5 separate regions of the Homo sapiens genome follow, and regions 1, 2, 4 and 5 are each reported to be linked to region 3. The links are microRNA targets in miRTarBase. Many come from high-throughput screens and were not tested one by one. Region 3 holds a microRNA gene; each other region holds the end of a gene's coding sequence.
Evidence for each region. The annotated mature microRNA hsa-miR-519c-3p reads AAAGUGCAUCUUUUUAGAGGAU and lies in region 3 at 1,404-1,425, shown strand. An mRNA with a match to its seed (bases 2 to 7 or 8) in the 3' UTR can be bound and repressed. Matches are read on the target gene's strand: a 7mer-m8 pairs with bases 2 to 8, a 7mer-A1 pairs with bases 2 to 7 and ends in A, and an 8mer does both.

Region 1: miRTarBase lists ZNFX1 as a target of hsa-miR-519c-3p. Seed matches in the 3' UTR shown: 7mer-m8 at 1,626-1,632 and 7mer-m8 at 1,281-1,287.
Region 2: miRTarBase lists RAN as a target of hsa-miR-519c-3p. Seed matches in the 3' UTR shown: 7mer-m8 at 1,699-1,705.
Region 4: miRTarBase lists FZD6 as a target of hsa-miR-519c-3p. Seed matches in the 3' UTR shown: 8mer at 2,671-2,678.
Region 5: miRTarBase lists SALL3 as a target of hsa-miR-519c-3p. Seed matches in the 3' UTR shown: 7mer-m8 at 1,869-1,875.

Annotation. Positions count from the first base shown.
Region 1 is chr20:49,244,658-49,247,657 of GRCh38, forward strand. ZNFX1 (zinc finger NFX1-type containing 1) reads right to left here. Exons shown (of 14, transcript NM_021035.3): 14 at 1,243-3,000. The coding sequence ends at 2,610. Among named protein-coding and RNA genes, the nearest start is that of DDX27, 27 kb to the left of the region's middle.
Region 2 is chr12:130,875,473-130,878,472 of GRCh38, reverse strand. It overlaps RAN (RAN, member RAS oncogene family), which reads right to left. Exons shown (of 7, transcript NM_006325.5): 6 at 2,691-2,861; 7 at 795-2,591. The coding sequence ends at 2,547. Among named protein-coding and RNA genes, the nearest start is that of RAN, 4.9 kb to the right of the region's middle. RefSeq lists a silencer at 1-69.
Region 3 is chr19:53,685,119-53,688,417 of GRCh38, forward strand. It overlaps MIR519C (microRNA 519c), which reads left to right and starts at 1,351; the gene lies at 1,351-1,437. The region is part of intron 2 of LOC107985342 (a long non-coding RNA gene); the gene reads left to right.
Region 4 is chr8:103,331,282-103,334,281 of GRCh38, reverse strand. It overlaps FZD6 (frizzled class receptor 6), which reads right to left. Exons shown (of 7, transcript NM_003506.4): 7 at 1,416-2,941. The coding sequence ends at 2,773. Among named protein-coding and RNA genes, the nearest start is that of SNORD173, 24 kb to the right of the region's middle.
Region 5 is chr18:78,997,117-79,000,116 of GRCh38, reverse strand. SALL3 (spalt like transcription factor 3) reads right to left here. Exons shown (of 3, transcript NM_171999.4): 3 at 1,148-3,000. The coding sequence ends at 2,795. Among named protein-coding and RNA genes, the nearest start is that of SALL3, 19 kb to the right of the region's middle.

The DNA.
Region 1 (3,000 bases), not on the chromosome of region 3:
ATAAATTAGTTACTTGCTGCAAAAACCAGAGTCTCTTGTCCTCCAGGCTGGAGTGCAATGACACGATCTTGGCTCATTGCAACCTCCACCTCCCGGGTTCAAGCGAATCTCCTGCCTCAGCCTCCCAAATACCGGTGATTACAGGTGCCCGCTACCATGCCTGGCTAATTTTTGTATTTTTAGGAGAGACAGGGTTTCACCATGTTGGCCAGGCTGGTCTTGAACTCCTGACCTCAGGTGATCCACCACCTCAGCCTCCCAAAGTGCTGGGATTACAGGCTTGAACCACTGTACCTGGCCAAAAACCAGTTTTGATCCTGTAAGAACGTCGGTTCTCATCCTTTTCTGACTCAGAATGAGATGAAAGCTGTGGGGCCCCACCTGGAAAACTGTATAGTTTGTTATAATTTCAGGGAGTACTTACCACCCTACCCCCAGCTTAAAAATTATAAGTTATCCAGTAGCACATACCCTAGATACTAAAGAGTGTGTTCAAAGCTATTCATTCAGGCTGCACCTAAGTCACCAACAGAGGGTCCAATTCAGAAAATGATGGCACAACTGTGTGATGGAGTACAGTTCAGACTACTGTCTTACTGGATTTTACAGAAAGTAGGTTATTAGGCTAAAAAAGCCAAGTGCAGAACTGTGTACTTTTTCTTTTCCTTTTCCTTTTTTTGAAGCAGGGTCTCACTCTTGCCCAGGCTGGAGTGCAGTGGCTTCACTGCTCACTGCAACCTCGACCTCCCCAGGCTCAGGTGATCCTCCTACCTCAGCCTTTGGAGTAGCTAGGACTACAAGTGCAAGCAACAACACCTGGCTTATTTTTGTATTTTTTTTTTTGTGGAGATGGTTTCGCCCTGTTGCCCAGGCTGGTCTTGAACTCCTGGGCTCAGGCCATCTGCCCAATGTGGCCTCCCAAAGTGCTGGGATTACAGATGTGAGCCACCATGCCTGGCCTAAGGGATGTGTATTGCATGTGCATAAGTTCTCTCTGGGAGGACTCAGGAAGTTAACAGGGTTTGCCTCTGGAGAAAGAAACTTCAGGTATACCCTTTTGTACAGGCTGAAAAAATGTTCTTTTTACCGTGGGTAAAAATGATTCATTCACCAGCTAAATAAAAATCCTGTATCACAAAAACAAAATCACAGCCTCACTGTAGACAGTGCCTTCCCTGTGCCCGTCTTCACTGTCTTTGGCTGAGTTGCTTCTGAAAATTGAGGATACACGTGGACCACTGATTTTCTCAATCATTGTTTTTAATTGGCTTTATAAGCTAAAGTGCATAGTAAAGACAAAAAAAGGAAATGCATACATAGGAAAGGGACACTTAGAAAGGACCTGAGATACCTAAATGTCTGTTCTAAGGAACACTGGAAGGAGGGAATGCAGATGCAGGCAGCAGGCCTGGGTCTGGCTTCTGGCCTGGGTTTGGAGCCTGCAGAAGCTGCTGGCATGCTAGCTCTACCCAGGGAACAGCTCCAAGAGGGAGTGTTGGGATGAAGGATCACACTTGGGATAGGTGCTGCTGGTACCAAATGTGATTTTAGCTCCATTCAGGGCCCAGGGGTAACCAGCAGTGCCACCAAACCTGTCAGCAGGTAAAGAAACTTCTACCATCCCAAAGTGCAGGTTACAGGAAAGGGGTCACTCCTTAATGACGACCTGGGCCTGCTGCATAAGGCCCATCTTATGCAGCATGTGGGCTGTCCCATCTTCCCCACTCTCAGTGACTATGTAACTGTGTCAGGGTGAGTTGGTGCAGTCTTTTGTCTTATCACGTGCCTCCATCTCCTGGAGGCAGGGTGCCCAAGGAGGGCAGGGAGGGGTTCTTGTGCTCCTTTAAGGGATAAGCAGTTCATAAACAACTATGGGCCTCTGTTTATTATGAGAGTTAGTCTGCAAATTAGGGCCTGGCAATTAGAATCGGTCTGCATCAATGAGCTCATACTCTGTTCCTGGGGAACAATGTAGAATAAACATCTGACCAAGTAAAGACCCAGAGATACCACTAGGTGGCCCTAGGTGGAAGCCCCAAACATGTTCCAGGGAGTCTGTCCACTAATTTGCAGGAGAGAAGGGGTGAGATTTGTTAACTTTGCTCTCAGTTCTGGAGATAAAGTGCTTACTCTAGCGCAGGGGTAAATCTAGAAACAAATGTGGGTGAGCCCTAAAAGTGGATCCTTAAGTAGGTGCTAAGACTAAAAAGAATGATTTTTTTTTTTTTGAGACAGAGTCTTGCTCCTGTCGCCCAGACTGGAGTGCAATGGCATGATCTCAGCTCACTGCAACCTCCGCCTCCTGGGTTTAAGCGATTCTTCTGCCTCAGCCTCCCAAGTAGCTGGGATTACAGGCGCCCGCCATAACGCCCAGCTAATTTTTGTATTTTTAGTAGAGACGGGGTTTCGCCATGTTGGTCAGGCTGGTCTCGAACTCCTGACCTCGTGATCCGCCTGCCTCGGCCTCCCAAAGTGCTGGGATTACAGGCGTAAGCCACTGCGCCCAGCCTAAAAAGGATGATAATAAAAAACAAACTTCAGTTCCTTCATTAGGGAGCTGGCCCCAGTCATTCAGTGGCGAGGGCAAAAGGCAGTGGTGTACCATCTTCCTACATCATCCCCTGGATCTCCTCAAAGTTCATCAGGTTGTTGGCCGTGTCAGACCAGGCAGCATGCTGGGCTCCATCCATTTCAGAAGCAAGCTGGTTGCTTCTTTCCAGAGTATGATTTGTGCCACCAATCACTTCCTTACAGTCAGGACACGTGCCCCTCTCCATGGCTCCCCCACAATCGCCAATCACATAGATATGGCCATTGCGGCACTTGAACCAGTGACCACGAGGATAACCTATGGCACTGACAATCTGCACTCGCTCTTCCTCTGAGATGCCCAGGCCAGAGCAGGGAAGGGTGGCTTTCAGAGCTTCCATCTTTTCCTGCACAAGTTGTTCATCCTCTTGGGTGAACTTACATGTTTTCTCAAGGATATTCTGGACACTA
Region 2 (3,000 bases), not on the chromosome of region 3:
ATGTTTTTTGAATAGGACTCTGACCCCTTAACTAAAGATAAGGTTTCCATGGTTAGGTGCCGTTTCTCCCCACCATGCCCTCGGCTTCAAGGGTAAAAGGTGCTGCAAGGAGTTAGGATAGGTGCTGTCCTAGTACAGGGTCTGCCTCATACAGGGAAAGCTTAGTCTCACGTAATCTTGCTGGGCAGGATAGCCCTGTACAGCCCGAGTGGCAGAAAACATCATACACGATGTCCGTCAGTTTGCTGGCAAGAAAAGCTGAATCCAACCCTCATCCCATTTGCTCAGCAGGTAATTTTTTGTGTTTCTGATCTGTTTTTGCAAAAGAAACCAGAAATTCTCTGTACTTGAGTTCCTTCAGGTGAACAGTTAGCCAGGAAACCAGTCCTCTTTGGAGGCTATTTTGGAGTCTCATCTTTTCTAGACATTTTATGATTGATACAATTTTTTAAAAAATCCCATTCTATGTGGTTTTTTAAAAAAACTGGCTCTCACACAAATTGAAACTACTAATTTACCAGTTTCACATTATATCCACACAAGACCTATGCACTAACTATGCTTTTTCTTAATGACTTTGCTCTAATAAGCTATTACTGGTTTGCAGTAACTTCATATAAAGCTTTCAAGGCTTCCCCCATTAGACACGAGATTTCAAAAAATGGAGAGCAGACTTTTCCCATTTGTACAATCTGGAGAGAACTGACCCCTTCCCCGCCGCCCCCCCAAAAGATAATAATCTCTGCTAACTCTTCAGCATTTCCTAAAGCAAATACTAGAGATGATTCAAAAAATCCAGGCAAAGTAGAAGCAATATATTTTGCAACAATTATTCTTTCAATAAAGGACTTGTAAATTCTCTCCCACACCACGTTAGACAGGTAAGTGACGTCACTTCCAAATTTCAACTGTTACATAGAAGATCCAGAATGTCAACACCACTTGCAATCTCCACAAGGTTACAAACAACACATACACCTTCAATTCAAAATACCTGAATGAAAGGTTTCATCCCAATTATGGGGAAAAAACTTCCCATCTCACAGGCTGGTTAGAAACTGGTTCTGAATACAGCGTAACATACACAGCAATTCAGATCTTAAGAAACTCAACTGTTGCCAGTTAATACAGTAAGTAGAACTTTATTCAGCTTCACCCTTATTTCATTTTTCCATATATTTAAGTGATCCTTTCTATACCTTTTAAGGTAAGCAATCATCTCAAGATTATCAGACATCTAAAGAAAACTTTGGTAAACTGGACTATAGTAATCGTATGAGAAAAAAATAGCTCAAGATTCCTAACTGCTACAAGAATAGTGTTGATGGGATCAAACTCCTAATTATCCTAATAGACCTAATTCATTTTTAAATGTGGAAAATATGCAAGATAAATTAAATGCTTAGTTAAAAAAAAAAAAAAGTTTCACCAACTGTTCTCCATTACTGAGAAGCCCCCACACTGCCCCACTGTGCATATTCCTAGTATTTCATCCATGTCCTGCTCTGCTGTGCTGCCCTACAAAAAAACCCTCCCGGGGGGGAAAAAAAAACAAAAAAACGGTGTAGTGTGAACTGCTGAAGAACTTAAATGTTCAAGACATCTTTAAAGTCTAGGAGTACCTGAAAACTGTGGGTAAACATGGACCATTTTCCTTGCGTATCAACTTCACACTAAGCATCTAACATTCAAACAAAAAAGTGCAAAATTTGTAATTATTTTTAACAGCAAGAATTCCCAACCTCCTGCCATCCACTGATGTTCCATCCTGTTTGAGGTTCTACATTAAAACATGATTACTTTTGCCATAAAAGAAAATATTACCCTTAAAATATCTATTTGATATGTACAAACCACATTTTTATTCTGACAGGTCACAGATTTTGAGCAAGTGCTTCCCTAGGTGACCCTACCTAGCCAATATGAAGGTGGAGCAAACACTGCTTTAGCTTAACTGCACTAATATTTACACCATGTAACCCTTCTAACCAAATAGAATACTGCTGACCTGTCATCATCAGTTTGTGTGACATGGCTCAAATGTACAAAAATAAACATAGGGAGAAATTAACCCAATAGATTTCAAATTAAGTGATAAAAGCAAGGCAATTCAAATATTAACATGGCATAAAACTTCCCTACTTTAGTGGTTTCCAAATGCTATTTATAAACAAGGGATGAGTTCACTTGCTTAGATATTTGAAATACAACTTTATTCTGATTCTAAACGAAAAGGAATGGGAATGACAGTAACAAACAAGATTTCACCACTGAATATTGTGATGTGACTGCAGCAGTCTTATATATGAAACTCAAGGAATCAACTGCGTTCCAAAACAGCTAAATATGCAGGTCCAAACAATGAAGTTATTTTTTAAACTGCCACATTCACTCCGAAGCCCACTCATCTCCTTCAGCATCCCACAGATGAAGCACATGTTCCGCTTAGCTAGATAATAATGAGGTGGCACACACGCTGCACCGCTGACATCACAGGACAGCTGCCTATAAAACTAGACTTCTGACGCTGGGCTCCAGCTTCATTCTCACAGGTCATCATCCTCATCCGGGAGAGCAGTTGTCTGAGCAACCTAGACGAAGAGATGGAAAAACGTTAACACTCCAGATCAAAACTGCCAGGAATAAACAAGCCAAACCGAACAATCTGAACAGCAAAGTGGCCACAATACCTCTAAGTCGTGCTCATACTGTGCTGCCAAAGCTGGGTCCATGACAACTTCTGGTGGGGCGAGAGCAGGCATGGCAACAAATTCCAAGTTAGGGTCTCCAATGAGCTTCCTAGCAAGCCAGAGGAAGGGCTTTTCAAAGTTGTAGTTACTTTTGGCAGAAATGTCGTAGTACTGTTTAAAAGAAAGGTAAAATTACTTTTTAAAATTCATTATTAAGATGACGATTTTTCTAGGACATTGCAAGATAAGAAAATGTTAAGATTCTTGGCAAGGCATGGTGGCTCATGCCTGTAATCCCAGCACTTTCGGG
Region 3 (3,299 bases):
TTGGTAACACATTTGCAGAGCGTGCTTATCATCAGACTTGCATGATGTTGGGGTTCTGTTTTTGTTTAGTTGTTTTGCATCATGGGGTCTCTGTTGCCCAGGCTGGAGTGCGGTGGCGCTTCCAACCTAGATCTCTTGGGCTCAAGTGGTCCCGTGCTTGCTTTTTTTTTTTTTCTTGAAACAGAGTCTCTGTCTCTGGCCCAGGCTTGAGCGCAGTGGCATGTTATCTGCTCACTGCAACCTCTCCTCCCAAGTAGATGGGATTACAGGTGCACGTGCCACGACGCCTGGCTAATATTTGCATTTTTAGCAGAGATGCAGTTTCATCATGATGGCCAGGTTAGTCTCCAACTCCTGACCTCAGGTGATCCGCCTGCCTCAGCCTCCCAAAATGCTGAGATTATAGGTGTAAGCCACCCAGCCTAGCCTCCAATTTTTTTTAATGTGTGCTGCCAATGCAAGCACATATGTGTAGGAATTATTTTTCATGTGAGCACATAGTATATGGAACTTAATTTTTATTGATGTACGGTCTCAAAAATATATATTTTATCATATTCTTATTATACATGTAACATAGTCATATACACACAAAACACTCTTCTATACACAGAGAATACTCTCGTATCACTTTGGGTAATTTTTTGTTTGTGTGTGTATGTTTTTGTTTTTTTTTTAGATAAGGTCTGGGTCTGTCACCCAGGCTAGAGTGCAGTGGTGCCATCTCAGCTTATTGCAACCTCCACCTGCCACTTCAGCCTCTTGAGTAGCTGTCTACAGGCGCACACCACCACGCCCGGCTAACTTTTCTGTTTTCTCTACACATGAGGTATCACCATGTTGCCCAGGCTGGTCTCAAACTCTTGAACTCAAGTGATACTCCTGCCTCAGCCTCCTAAAGGGCTGGGTTTAGAGGTGTGAGCCACCACACCTCACCTGTACCTGTGTGTTTCTGCTCATTTTATTGAGGAGCTTTTACAGCCTGGCCTGTGGTCTCTCCTGGAGGGTGTTTGTGTGTGTGACAATGCATATTCTTCAACATCGTAGATTCCATTTTGGATGCCCCCGTCGGGACTGTGTGTCACTGTACTGGAACTCGAGTGAACACTTAGCTCAAAATCTATTGCTGTTCTCTAGAATCCAGCCCAATTCTCATGGTTAAATATAAGGTATGTATAGTCGGCATTGCTTTTTGAAACAAGGAACTGGAGATGGCCCTGATAGGGGTTTATGTTCTGGATTCCAGAAATCATGCAAACAGGGCCAATAAATGCATCTTTATTTTTGTGTCCATTTTAACCTGGTCAAGGAAAATTCCAACAAAAAATCAATGGTGCTGGAGCAAGAAGATCTCAGCCTGTGACCCTCTAGAGGGAAGCGCTTTCTGTTGTCTGAAAGAAAAGAAAGTGCATCTTTTTAGAGGATTACAGTTTGAGAAAAGCAACGTTAACGTTCATGCTGATCTCGGCAATACATTTGCAGAGCGTGCTTATCATCAGACTTGGATGAGGGTGGGCTTTTGTTCCTGGTTTGTTTGTTTTCTAAGACGGGGTCTCTTTTGCCCAGGCTGGAGAGCAGTGGCACTTCCAACCTAGCTCTCTTGGGCTCAGGTGGTCCTCTTTGCAGGGTCACGATCTCTGCTCACTACAATCTCCCCTTCCCGGGTTGAAGTGGTTCTCCCATCTCAGTCTCCTGTGTTGCTGGGAGTACAGGCCCATGCCACCACGCCCGGCTAATTTTTGTATTTTTAGCAGAGATGGGGTTTCACCGTGTTGACCAGGATGGTCTCCATCTCCTGACCTCGTAATCCACCTGCCTCGGCCTCCCAAAGTGCTGGGTTTACAGTCATGAACCACTGCACCCGGCCTTTGATCTTAATTTTCAATATGAGACCCATCATGAATTTGGGCATCACCTCTGCACAGGGGCCATGGTGATCTCTGTCACTCCATTCATTTCTTATGTGTGGAGCAAACATTTATGTGTAGGAGTAATTCTTTATGTGAGCATACAGTATATGGAACTTTCTTTTTTTTTGAGATAGGGTCTGGAAAATAAATGATGTACAGCCAGGCGCATGAGTATATGAGCAGTTTTTGTGTGTATACGACATGAGCGGTGGCTCATGCCTGCAATATCAACACTTTGGCAGGTTGAGGCGAGTGGATCACTTGAGGTCAGGAGTTTGAGACCAGCCTGACCAACATGGTGAAACCCTGTCTCTACTAAAAATACAAAAAATTAGCCAGCTATGGTGGCGCACGCCTGTATTCCCATCTGCTGGGGAAGTTGAGGGAGGAGAATCACTTGAACGGACAGATGGAGGTTGCAGTGAGCCAAGATCACGCCACCACACTCCAGCCTGGGCGAGAGAATAAGACTGTCTCAAAAAAAAAATATATATATACATATATATTTATATAGAGAGAGAGACTCTGTCTCAAAAAAAAAAATATATATATGGGTGTGTTTGTGTGTATATATATATTATATATGATGTATATTTCATCATATAGCCATATATATAATTATATACACAAAAAATACTCTTCTACACACAGAGATGACTGATATCACTTTGGGGTGGTTTTTGCTTGTGTGTTCTTTTAAATTTTTTTTTGCAACAAGATCTGGCTCAGTCGCCCAGGTTGGAGTGCAGTGTTTCAGTCTTGGCTCACTGCAACCTTCGCCTCCCACCCCAGCCTCCTGAATTAGTGTCTACAGGCATGTACCACCACACCTGGCCTACATTTGTATTTTTTTACAGACAGGGTTTCACCGTGTTGTACACGCTGGTCTTGAGCTCCTGAGCTCAAGTGAATCTCCTGCCTTGGCCTCCTGATGTGCTGGGATTAGAGGTATGAGCCACCACACCCAACTGGTACTTGTGTATTCCTGTTCAAATTTTATTGAGGAGCTTTTACCACCTAGCCTGTGGTCTATCCTGGAGGATGTTTGTGTGTGCGACAATGTATATAGTTCAACATCTTAGATCACATTTTGGATGTTTCCAATGGGACTGTGTGTCTCCGCACTGGAACTCAAATGAACACTTGGCTCAGAATCCATTTGCTGTTCTCTGGAAATCCAGTCCAATTCTCTTGGTTAAGTATAAGGTATGTCTAGTAGGCATTGCTTTTTCTGTTTGAGAACAAAACTCGGGAGGATTGTCCCTTGATGAACAAGGCTAACCTGCTGAGCCTTTGAAGCAAGGAACTGGAGATGGTCCTTTTCAGGCGTTTTATTCTGGATTCCAGAAAACATGCAAACAGGGCCACTAAATGCATCTTTATTTTTCT
Region 4 (3,000 bases), not on the chromosome of region 3:
TTCAAATTTCCTTAGTTTTTATCTAATGTGCTTTTTTCTTTTCCAAGATACCACATTACATTTAGTTGTCATGTCTCCTTCAGCTCCTCTTGGCTGTGATAGTTTCTCAAACTTCCCTTGTTCTTGAGGATTTTGACTCCTTTTGAGGAGGACTGGTCAGCTATCTTGTAAAATGTCCATCTGCTGAGATTCATCTCATATTTCACAACTAGAGTGAGGTTATAGGTTTTGGGAATATCAGAGGTAAACTGCAATTTTCATCACATCATATGAAAGGTAACACTCTCAACATGACTTACCTCTCTTTTGACTTTGATCGCCTTCTGAGTAGTGAGGTACCTCTCGCTGAGTTTGTCAGGTTTCTCCACTGTAAATGCTACTCTCCCTGTACCACCTGTACTTTGGATTCTTTGGAAGGAAGTCACTATGTGCTGTCCATTCTTATAGGTGTGTAGTATCTTATTGTTTTCCTTGCTTGTACTTTTAAGTTACATGATGTGTATCTAGTAATACATCAGCAGTACCTGGGGATCTTTTTCTCTTGCTTGTGCCAATTCTTGTTCATGTTTTAATGAACAAAAAATGGTCTTTTTTGCATACCTGATTGTTTGATTGTATGATGAGCACTGTGGTACTTTTAGAGTATATAAAATAACATTTTCTTCCTCCAGAGAAGATTTTCATTTACCTGGTGCTTGAGCTACCTTAATCTAATTTCAGGGTTTGAACTTTTTCTATCTACCCAGACAACTTGAAGCAGGGCTGCTTTATGTACAACTCACATGTACTTTTAAGATCCAACCCTCTGAGGTCACAATTCTAAATGTAGGGTGGTTGCAGACCCCTTGTCTTCCAGCCCTTTGAGGCTGTCAATAGCACTGTTCCACTTCTCAGCTGCCCTTTCCAAGTCATCAAGTGCTCCTGGGCAAAACAGCTCCAAATGTTGGGCTTTGTAGTGAGAATTTCTCTCTTCTCCCAGATCTTAACCTGGCAATTCCTCACTATCTTATTAGTTTTTTAATGTTTGGGGTTAATATTATTTTATTTCTTTTTTTCCCCCATCACAGAAATCTGCCTATTGTTTTATTTCATCCACATATTCTAGCCTTCTGTTTTGGGAGGTTTGTCTGTATCACCTAATACACTGTTAGGAGTGAAAACTGGGTCCTGGGTTCCTTTTGCTTCACCCCTCACACTCCAGATCTTTCCCACTGGCTTTAAAAAGTTACAGTTAATATAGCTTTATAATTTACATTTTTGGAAAGAAATAGTGACAAAAAGCAAGAATCTTGACTGCATTCTCCTTCAAGGTTAAAAAGAAGCCTCTGACTTACCAGCCATGGAGTCACTAATCTAAAAAATTATACTACTTCCTTGGCCAGAACTACTATACCTAACCACAGAATACTCCATAATTCTTATACAAAGATAATTTTATTAATGAAAAGATCACACAAAACAAAGTTTTTGTATTCAAAGTTGTCTGTTTAAAATGTGGAAAAGGTAATATTTACAACATTTCCCATACAGTACATAGTTTTTGTGCCTTAACAGAATGCTAAATAGAGAAAAAAACCAAAAGCAAATGCTAAATTGAGAGAAAATCAAAAGCATCAGAAAATCTTGCCCAAAGAATAATACTTAATAGGAAACAAAATTAAGAAAACTCCTTAATATTTTAAAGTATGTTGTATAAAAACGTTGTGTCTTGTTTATTAAAACTACCTTTTTTCCATTTGATTGGCACTAATATCGCTATCACACTTTTTAATGTTCAGCAAAATCCTAGTGAGCTGCCGAAATGAATTCTACAAAATGTCTGAGAAAGGTACTGTATAATACAAAATGTAATATTCTAAATGTTAAAAAACAAAAGTTAAAACAAAAAATATAAGCAACTGTAAGTGGTTATAATACAATCAATGGGTGGTCATGAAACATTAAAAAAGGGAAGTCAATTGCACTTGGCCTAATATACAAAAGACTAACATTTTGTCTACTAACCCTTTAGGACATTTTATTTTAAATATGCAGAAGGATCAGTGAGCAGCATAATACAATCAATAGTGGACACTCTTTGAGTAAGCACCTTATTTCAGTTACATAATTTAGATCTGTGAAATTCCTAAAACGAGACTATAAAAATCACACATTTTAGATGGTAAGGTATCAATAAGTGGGTTTTTAAAGTTAAATTCCTATTATAAGACTTTTTGGTATATCTTTTTTTACAGTATAAAAGAAGACTATTTTACAATTTTCTTAGAAATTCAGTGTAAAAGCTACCAAAGTGCTAAAATATCACAATAGCATGATAAAAATACTTGAATAGGATTTCAAAAAAGTTCAAATACATATAAGCTTATTTTCAAATATGTATAAAAAGATACAAGGATAAGATTTAAATACTTCAGCAAAGAAATATCTTGATTTTATATCAAAAAAGTAAAATAGCATAGTACATCTTAAAATACTCTTACCAAGAGTAGAATCTTCATAAATAGAAAAGGAAGATTCCTCTAACTCTGTCCTCCCACACTATTAAAAAAATATTATTAACCTGCACATTTTCTGTTTTCAGGTATATTGTTGTCATTAACCTTTGTGTGAAATGAGTCATATTATTCTTGAACTCTATTTTTTCCAGTATAACAGTAGGCAATGCAACTTTAAGTGCAAAAGAAGAATGTAACAGTGATTCTTACAAAACAGTGCATAGGTCACTTCCAGTGTAACACAAATTTGCTTCTGAGTAACGAGAGAAAATGTTCTTCAAGTATCTGAATGACAACCACCTCCCTGCTCTTTTCTCACTCCTGAAACCGGGTGAACAAGCAGAGATGTGGAACCTTTGAGGCTGCTTGGTTCTGAAGAACTGGGGACCTGCAAATTGTTGCTCTGTGCCAGGCCAGTGTCAGTAATATCACTCTTTGGACTAATCCTAGATAAAAGAAAAAAAGTTGACACACACACATCCACAAACACAAATATGATGCCATT
Region 5 (3,000 bases), not on the chromosome of region 3:
CCTGAAAAGCCGGTATTTTCACTTCATGCTGACAACGGGAAGGCAATTCCGAGTGGTCACTTTTGGGCACTGCGGAGTCTCTGATATGTAGGAATTTTCTACCACATCTTCTTCCATCACAGATGTAAAAAGAATCCACAACTAGGAGGCTGAATTTTTATTTTGGAAAAAAGCAAAAAACAAAAATTTCAAGACCAATCAAGATGCACTGAGACACTGCTTAAATCTAAGCTGCCAAGCTGTGTTGACGTTCCTGGTGGAAATACCACGGATACACACCCACCACAAATGACCTCCTCAAATTCCACTTTCTCCATTAGAAAAATCAAGGAATGCAACTCAGAAATAACATTACATCCTGCATTTTATTCAATTCCATATGACAAAAATAGTAACCTAGACTAAGACATCCATTTCAGTCAGCAGATGTGTCAAGCCACAAGATTTAATAATAAAAAATATTGGGTCTAGGTAACAATCCCCAGCTGCTCAGAGAGGTCCCAGCCCCGCATGGCATTACAGTATAAAAATAGTGTCTCTCTTCACCATGCAGAGGGATGGCCTAGCCCTGCACACAGGAGGGTCAGTCTCACTGTACCTTCATGAGCCATCTTATTTACAACACTTTACATTTCTCTTTAGTTATATACACATCCTTTTGGGAGAAGAGAGAACACTATATGGTACCAAATACTAACCAAAAACAAACAAACAAAAAAACCACACACACACACACACCAAAAAGGACACAGATAAATAATGAAAACATTCAACTGCTGAAACACAGTGACCTTAAGCCACCTCAGTTTTCTCTGCCTAATGCTTGAGACACCCCGAGCCCTCATCCCGTGAGAAGAGGTGGCATGGTGGGGCGAAGTTACATCTCATCACCGTGGAAAACAGAGCTGTAGAGTTCAGTGTTGATTTCCAATAGAAATAAACAGCTAATGAGTCTTTGATACTTTTTGTTTAGTGACACGCTGGCACAAACAGCCCATCCTCTTACAATGATTGTTGATGCTGCTGTGGTTGTTAGGAGAAGATTGTTCTATTTTTCTGTCTCGACCGAGAAGACTTCACTGTCTGATTCTTTCTTCAGGGGCATGCAACTCCTTGCAGTTACCCAGCTACCAGAGCATCTCTTGAACAATTTTGTTGTTGGAAGTTCATAGTGTCAGACGCCAGCACACTTGCAACGCACGAAAATGAGGTAGTTCACGACGCCGTGTTTGTGCTGCCTCGGCCGCCCCAGCCTCCGGGGCCCTCCTGGCTGGATGCAGCTCAGCCATCAGCGTCAGGCTGTGTTCTGAAAAATCAGAGGACACTGTGCTTTGCTTTCATCTGAGAAGATAATAAATAAATCAGGAACTCGGAAAATTTCAAAGTCATGACTGATTGTACTGCCTGATACTTGCCATTTCTCTTGGGTTTACTGTACATGTGACCAGTGCCACCAGGCAGCCACAATCTTGTCTGTGGGTGAGAGAGAGAGACAGACCCGCTTACATGAAAATCAGACCTGCAGAAGGTTATCCTAGTTCCTTCCTGGCTTGTACTGACGTCATAGTCCTAGGATGAATTCACCAAGGTTTCGTTAGGGGGCGGTCACAGTTTTAAAGTGGGCTTTGTGGAAAAGTTAAATAAATCATTTTAATTTAAGAAACGGCAGGCCCTACTTTACTGAAAAGCTGACAAGTCTTGGTGGCTTTTCAAGTGGCAGAGATTTCTAATATTGTTTGACCATAAGACAAAACAAGGAACTGTAACAGTTTTCCCATTTTCCTTAAACTGAAGTACTATTTATAAAATACTTTACATTTTTTTAAATTTTCAAATTATAGACAAACCTCCCTAATACAAAATACTAAAAGTGCAATAGTATAAATTAAGAGTTTGCAACCACATTATACAAACATTACCTTTTTATTGTACAGCTTTGATAATGTGAAATATTTTCTCACAACTGTTTATAATGTTGTGAGTCATTTACGGTGATGTTTGTCTGTAACTCGTTCCCCAGTTATTGGGCTACAGACCACACTAGAAAACAACTGTCCACATAGCAGCTACAAACATTTAAATTAAAAAAAAAAAAAAAAAAGGCTTATTACTGACAGGTACTTGCACACGAAAAGCATGCTATCTTTCCCAACAGAACTTCACAATTTTGCCTGCATTGAAATAATCCACTTATTTATAGTAAAACAAATCTTGCTTAAAAAAAAAAATCACACAGCCAGATGTATTCTGCAGTACAAAAGCTTCGTTTAAGGTCGGGGCTATTATATTGTCTGTTACCCGCATTATCTTAACATCATAAATACTACAGACGAAGATAGTGTCATGATACACAGCATTGGGAGTACTAAACCACGTCTTTAACATGAAGAGTTCTAAAAAACACCGTTCAAGTGTCTAACTAATTCAAAAGAAACCATCAAATGAGTTTCACTGGAATACCGCAGAGAACCCCTTTCTCCCTCGGAGAGATTATTAGGTTTCAGGAGAAAGGAAGTGGACATGGTCTGAGCTCTTTCTGTTCCTAAGGCGGTTTTCCAAGCACTTTTTTTTTTGAAGGAAGCTTATTTAAAAGATTGCAGAGTTCTCGAGAACAGTCAGGCTTGCTGTTGAAGGGAGCGCCATGCAGCGCTTACAAGACCACCTCTCGGCAGCCGCACAAAGTGTTTTCTGCTATGGGTGAAAGTGTAATGAGAACCGAGGCAAGAAAGGTCGGAGGCCTGATGCTCCAACTTCAAAACGTGGGCCTGGGCAGGGCAGATGAGCGAGTCACTGGCTAGTTGATACCAATCTCCTTGTTATCCTCGATAAACCGCGTGAATGGGCGGCTGGCTGCTGTTTCTGAGCTCGCTTTGTCCAAGCTGACGATGGGTGGGCTACTGCCAGTGCGTGCTTTGTCCATCCCACTGGCCATGCTGCCCAGAGGGGGGAGGGCGCTGCCCCCAAGACTCACGGGGAGCTGGGGGATGCCGCCGTTCTGGA